Homo sapiens: one gene and its partner. Changing the gene in region 2 together with the main gene of any one other region gives a genetic interaction. Each region holds a gene or a part of one and is shown on either strand. Other genes may lie near its edges.

What was found. Genes that interact genetically often act in the same process or in processes that back each other up.
Region 1: changes in CAMK2G (region 2) and SKP2 together harm fitness more than expected from each alone (negative genetic interaction), as found in Homo sapiens cells (one large-scale study listed by BioGRID).

The regions. Positions count from the first base shown.
Region 1 is NC_000005.10:36,172,611-36,176,110, reverse strand, and holds part of SKP2 (S-phase kinase-associated protein 2), read right to left. Parts: intron 1-3,500. UniProt on the Homo sapiens protein: Substrate recognition component of a SCF (SKP1-CUL1-F-box protein) E3 ubiquitin-protein ligase complex which mediates the ubiquitination and subsequent proteasomal degradation of target proteins involved in cell cycle progression, signal transduction and transcription.
Region 2 is NC_000010.11:73,815,556-73,819,055, reverse strand, and holds part of CAMK2G (calcium/calmodulin-dependent protein kinase type II subunit gamma), read left to right. Parts: intron 1-160; exon of another isoform or gene 161-788; coding exon of another isoform or gene 789-847; intron 848-1,501; coding exon 1,502-1,577; intron 1,578-1,938; coding exon 1,939-2,033; coding exon of another isoform or gene 2,034-2,347; exon of another isoform or gene 2,348-3,189; intron 3,190-3,500.

The DNA.
Region 1 (3,500 bases), on a different chromosome or scaffold from region 2:
ATTCTATTATAAAGTAGGTCTACCATAAAGTAGGTCTTCCATGTACCACAGGTAGATATTTAATTTTATTTGCAGGCTTTCAGGAGCCTGAACCCTGCGTTTTTTGGATAGTGAACTGATTCCTGCTTTTTTTGGATAGTGAACTGATTTTCTTTTTTTTTTAAAGAATTCAGAGAATTATACAGTTTACTTTTGGCCCAGTAATTCCACTTTTAGAAAAATATAGATGTGTATGAATATATTCAATGTGGCAACAGTTATATTAGCCCCTCCTCCAGTTAGTTTAATATGTTAACCTCATCCATTCCGTGAAATACACTGCTAATCATTATGAAAACGCTTTCTGATAACATTTCATACATTTAAAAAAATACTAGGATAGCTTGTAAACAAAATATATACAATGCGTTATAATTTCAACTTGGTCAAAACACACTCAAACTCACATTTACACACAAACACATACACAGAAAGAAAGAGAGAAGAAAAAAAAAAGGCTGCAAGGAAATACATCCAAAATGTTAACTGCAGTATTCAAGGGTGTTTGGATTACAGGCAACTTTTCAGAATTTGGAAGAAAGTCATGTAAGCTACTTGGCAATCAGAAAATGAATCAATAAATGTTACTTATTTAGAACAACAGGCAAACTTCATTAACATTTGAGGGTTTTTTCGTCTCACAAGTATATCCCCTCTCCTAAATTCTGGACTTGCATTTTCAACTGCCTCCTCAACATACCGTTTGGATATGAGATAGGCCTCTAAATTTATGTCTAAAATCAAATACTCAATTTCTCCCCCAAATTTCCTCCTTCCCTAAACTCTTTCCCATCTCAGCAAGTGATAATTTCACGAATCCAGTGGCTTCAGCCAAAACCCTTGAAATCATAGTGGACTATTTTTCTCACATCCCACGTTCATTGTGTCACCAAATCTCATGATGTTGGTTTTTAAAATGTGCCCAAATCTGATCATTTCTTACCACCTTAAGTGTCACCAGCCTAGTCTGCTAACTGGTCTCCCTGCTTCATACTTCCCCGCTACAGCCTTTTCTCAACACAGCACTAGCGTGAGTCTTTTAAAATGAAGTCAGTCATATTGCTCTGCTCGAAATACTCCAATGGCTTCCCATATCCCATGTCACTTAGGAAAAATTCAAAGCTTTTGCCTTGGCTTAGACAGCCCTTGGCCATCTTTCTCCTCTCACTGTTCTCCCTGCTCCCTCTCACACATTGGTTCCATATCAAGGTATTTGCACTCACTGGTCCTTTGTTCTTGAATGTTCTTCTCTCACATATGCATATGGATTCCTTCTTCACTCAGTCAGTTCTCTGGGTCCAGTACAGTCTCCTCAGAGAGGCCCTGTCTTTAACCATTCCATCTAAAAGTAGTCCTCTTTCTGCCACATTCTATCTGGTTACTCTGCTTTGCTCTTCGTCCTTGCATTTTTACCTCCTTTCATAACATTTATGAAATATGTTCACTTTCTGGCTCCCCCACTAGAAAGTAATCTTCATAAGAGTGACTTTCTCTGTTTTGTTCAAGGCTCTGTTTTGTTCAATCACTGTAGGTGCTCAATAAATATTTAATAAATGACCAAAAAATGAAAAAAGTACACAATAAAATTTTGAGGGACCAATCATCTAGCCAGCCAACTAGCCATCAGCAAAATCTGATGCAATCATACTTTGACACCACTGGAGAAAGAACGAAACATTGGGGGATAAAGGGTTAGTTTCCTCTGGCCCACACTTAAGCTCTGTCCTCCCTGGGCAGGAAGTAGTTAGTAAACAGTAGTCACTGCCAAGGTTTCCTTTTCACTGTCCCCTTCATTTCACCATAAACAGTAGACCCAACCTGAGCTAGAAGGATCTTAGAAACCACCCGTTAATCCAACCCGTTACTTCAAAGGAGAGATGATTTCAGCTACAGAAGTCAAGGTCAAATCCAAGACCAAATGTTTCTGTGCTTCATCCATTGCTCCATGGAAAGGTAGTGATGGGGGTAGTGGGGGAAGGAACAGTATTAACAGCCAACACTAATTGAACTCTTACCATGTGGCAAGAAATGTTCCACATGCTGTACATGTCTTAACTCATTTATTCTTTCCTGTAACTCTAAGAGATGGGTTCTACTTATCTCCATTTTACTGCTGAGAAAACTAAGGAACAGGCAAGTTTAGCAACTTGCTCAAGTCTACCCAGTAAATGGCAGAGTGGATATTTGAACCCAGGCCATCTGGTACCAGTCTATGAGCTAAAACCAAATCCATATTATCTCATATATAATGAAATGGTGTGTGCTATTGTTAATGACATTAAAAACTTTTTATCCCCATGGTATAATTAAAAAACTAACACTTCAATTTACAGTCTGTCTCTCTGTCCTGAATGTGTCTAGCAAGCAGCATTTTAATACCTACTATTTCTGCCAAAACTCGGTAAACAGGCTCTCTGTTCTTTCTTGGAGGAACAAAGGGAAAGATTTTAAGCCAAATTTGGACAAAACCAACAGCACTTTGCCTACAGCAGTTTCTCAACCTTGCACCCAGAGCCTCGATTCATGTCAGAAAATCTTTCAGTAAACCAGTGAAAGATCCAGATGTGGGAAAGAAATATAAACAAGGCACTGCCTTCCCTTCACCTGCAGACAGAGAAGAACCAAGAGTGATGGGATTTCACACTAAGAGGATGCTCGTGGGTGAAGAGTTTAAACTTCTTGGAGGAAAATTTGGCAGAAACTATCCAAAACTTGAGAATAGTACTTAATGCTGGACCCAGCAATTCCACTTTTAAGAATCTATCCTTAGAAATGCATCTAAAGATTTGTCTCTGTCACTCATAAAATTGTTTATAGGAGAGAAAAACTGGGAAGATTCTGAAAGTCCATTAGAATTCTGATCAACTGCATATATTGTTATTGACTTAATATAAATTATTGCATATCTATTTGATGGACTATCACATAGCCACTGATGATGACATCATGTAGTCACTGAAAATGGGGTTAAAAAGCATATTACGAAGTATTTAATATACCATGTCCCATTAAAAAAAAAAACAGTTTTTGTACAGGAAAAAGCCTAGCAAGATGTTAAGATTATTGATAATTTGCTTCCCTTTGTGTTTTTCTGTATTTTACATTTTTTTTAAATGACTGTATAACACTATGATCAGTTTTAAAATAGTAATTATAAATACTGGGTGGGGAGAGTGGTATGAAATGAAGACATGATTGCTGCTTTTACAGCTTGCTAAAGAAAGTGTTCACCTTGTCTGAAAATGCAAGTGTTTGGAATGGCAGTAGTCCAAATTTGAGTCCTTGCACAGGTGAAAGACTCGAATTTCTACCCACTCATGAGATCCTAGCAATTATTTTCTATAGCTTTATACATCTTACCAGAGGACATCTGTCCTGGAGCAGTAGTTTTATACTACTTAAATTTTAAGATCTATTCTGCAGATGTTTGATTCAAATCTTTTTCAGAATAATAAAAACTA
Region 2 (3,500 bases):
GAGTGTGAAGTTTAACCTCCCAGAGCTGCAGGTTCCTTATCTGTAATGTGGAAATAAAATGGCACGCACCTCAGAGCCTTGTTAGATAAAAGACAAGGCAGTAGGAAGTCTTGATACGGTGCCTCGATGGGTTATCAGTAGCTCATCCTCATATTTCTAGTTACGTCTGTGCTGGAGGATGCCTTTGTCTGCTGCTTTTCCTCCCACCATCTATCCTTGCAGAGTTTCTAAGCACAACCCTCTTCGCCCGTGGGGCCCCAGTCAGGTCATCCAGATGGGTCTGGTGGGGTTGGAGAGGGTGTGTGTGTTGTGGGTGCACACCTGCCTGCTGCTTTTGGAAGCCGATCGAACTCCTTGCTTCCCTTAACCTGCTGCTTGCTCACCTGGAGCTGTGGCCTAGCGGGGCTGACGGCTGTGGGGCCCCCTCCTGGATGTGCCTTTGGCTGCGCTGCCCTGTCCCAACTGTGCTGCTTGGCTGTGCTGGCCCGGCTGGGCCGTGGTGGTGCTGTTCTAACGCTTGCAGTTGTCTTGCAGCCTTTTGCTCCTGTGAGGAAAGGGTTGTGGCCTGGCCCCGCCCAGGGCTCGGGTTAGGATGAGCCCAAGCTCAACCCAAGCTCTCCCTTACCCTGGTGGCAGCCCCTGCTGGTAGTGGCATTCCCTATAAGAGAAGCCCATGCCGGCAGGACATCACCAGCTGTCCCTTGGCTTTGGATGGGTTGGGGAGGAGGCCTCTGGAGGGCACCACCTCTGCCTGCCTGTCAGTCTGAGCCCTGTCTGGTTTTCCTGAGGAACACGTCCTGGCAATGAGAGCTGGTGTGAAATGTGCAGCTTTCCCAAGCCTCGAGAGGTAAATGGAGCAGCCTCTCTGGTACAGGCTGTCCCAAGTTTTTACAGTTCTGGGATCATTTCTCCCAGAAAAGCCCTGTGGAGTTGAGCAGTGGGAAGCATCCATCCTAGGGTTCTGATGGTCCTTTGGCACCCCAGCCCTAGCTGGATTCTGCTGTCAGGCTACCTGTCACCCAGGGCTGGGTCCTGGCCACTGAATGAGGGCTACGAGTGGGGGTGGTGATTGAGACCTGACTGAGCCCCTTCAGGTGAGAGAAGTAAATTGGGGGTGGAAGCGGCCTTATTGGGAGATGCTTGTGAGAGAGGCTGCTCATACAGGGGAGGGGCTCACAGCATTCACGATGTACCAGGCTCCTCACCTGTTAAAGGCAAGCGTGTTTTCTGCAACCTGGTTGTTGATGGAAAGGGAGGCAAAGGCCAAAGAACCATAACTAATGGCTGGGCTTCAGGAGAAAGTGGTCATTGTCTCTGCAGACTGCAGAGAGGGAGACGGGAGGGAAGGTGTGTTCGCTCTTCCTGCCAAGGGCCCTAGAGACAGAGAAGAGGGATGTCTTTGTCATAAGCGATCACAGGGGACTCCTGAGGACTGGGGAGGGCTCTCTGTAACTTGGGAGGTTCCCCAGTAGGTAAATTGATGGATTTTTCTCCCCCACAGTGCGAAAACAGGAGATCATTAAGATTACAGAACAGCTGATTGAAGCCATCAACAATGGGGACTTTGAGGCCTACACGTAAGTAGAGACCCATTTTTTTTTGTGACCTAAGTCATCTCCCAAGGCCTTCCCTGCTTCCAGACAACAATTAGGACCCTGGGGAAAGGGAGGTTGGACCTTGGGCAAAGTATCTGAGTTAAGCCCTCTCCTAAACTGGGAGCCCTTCCAGGTAGATTCCCTGAGCTCACCCATGGTATCCTGGCAGTGGGCCGAAAGCACAGGGCTGAGTGGCTCAGCAGGCAGGCCTGGAAGATCTTTGCTGTCTTGTCTGGCATGGCCACAGGTAGCCTGCTGCTACTGGATAGACACCGCTGATAAGGAAGGAAGACAAGTCACTCCATAGAAGCCTGATAGGCTGCTTTTTTTTTTCTCCCTGTAGGAAGATTTGTGATCCAGGCCTCACTTCCTTTGAGCCTGAGGCCCTTGGTAACCTCGTGGAGGGGATGGATTTCCATAAGTTTTACTTTGAGAATCGTGAGTGGGTTCGTGCTGCTGATATACTCCTGCCTGCCCCTTTACCCCTTTGTCTCTGTCTCCTGCTCACCTTCTCATCCCAGTTGCCCACTTTTCCCTTATTTGACCTTCGTGCTGCACTCCTACTCTGTATGCTTGTCCCCTTGTGCCCCGATGGTTGTAGACAGGCACCTTTGAAGGCCCTGCTCCTGAGCTCCAAGTGCCATTCATTCTGCAGCTGCTTTGTGGCAGTGCCAGTCACCACAATCAAGCTCACTTATTTCTTGCCGGGCGCGGTGGCTTACGCCTGTAATCCCAACACTTTGGGAGGCTGAGGCTGGCGGATCACGAGGTCAGGAGATCGAGGCCATCCTGGCTAACACGGTGAAACCCCATCTCTACTAAAAATACAAAAAATTAGCCGGGCGTGGTGGCGGTGCCTGTAGTCCCAGCTACTCGGGTGGCTGAGGCAGGAGAATGATGTGAACCTGGGAGGCAGAGCTTGCAGTGAGCCAAGATCAGGCCACTGCACTCCAGCCTGGGCAACAGAGCAAGACTCCATCTCAAAAAAAAAGAAAAAATTATTTAAGCCTCACCTCTTTCCAAGACGGATTGGAAGGAAACCCTTTGAGATTAGGTTGAGATGATCTCAGCACATAAGAACTAAGCTCTGTGTCTGCAGGTTTCACAATAGAGGAAATTAAAACCAGGATAAGAATGTGCAAACCAGGGCACTGTTGGTGATTTGCGAGATCGGAAGTTGTGGCTAGAATCTTCCTGACTATGGAGGAAGGCAGACGTCTTGTATAGGGGGTGGGGTGTACATTCTGGACAGTTCATGGAAAATAAGGGGATAAGAAGCTGAATCATCACCCCCTCCCATCTTTCTCTCTGCTCTATGAGACCCTCCCCTTCCTTATTTTTATCTCTTCCCACTTTATGCTGGGCCTTCCCTATCCTGCCCTGAGTTATAGTTAGTCACTAACTTCTCCGCTGGCTCCCACCCTTATCACATCTCAGCTACATATATAAACTCTCTGTTATCTAAGTAATTCTATTAGCCAGAAGCAATTCCAGAGTTTATATTAGTACTAGGAAGGTGTCATGTAGCCCCTGTCTAACATTTGAATTGAACTAAAATGTGAATCTCAATAAAAGCAACACAGTTTTCACAGCATATGCTGATAATGGCAATCCAACTTCTTTTGCCTTTTCCCCAGAGAATCCTGGGAATATCCTGAGCTTGGTGCTTTGATGATTCTATTTCAGCTTTGGTGCCTTAAAAAAAATTACAAATCAATTTTGAATGGTTTAAGTTCATGATTTTGTTCTGCAGCCCTAGCTAGGGGTGAGCCAAGCCTTATGAAATCTAAACTCAGCCTAACAGAATAGAAAATCTATAGGCTTTAGTTAAGAGTCACATGGTCCTGAGTTCAGGTGTGTGATTTGAGCAAATTATTCCTTGAGCCTATTTCCTCATCTTATAAT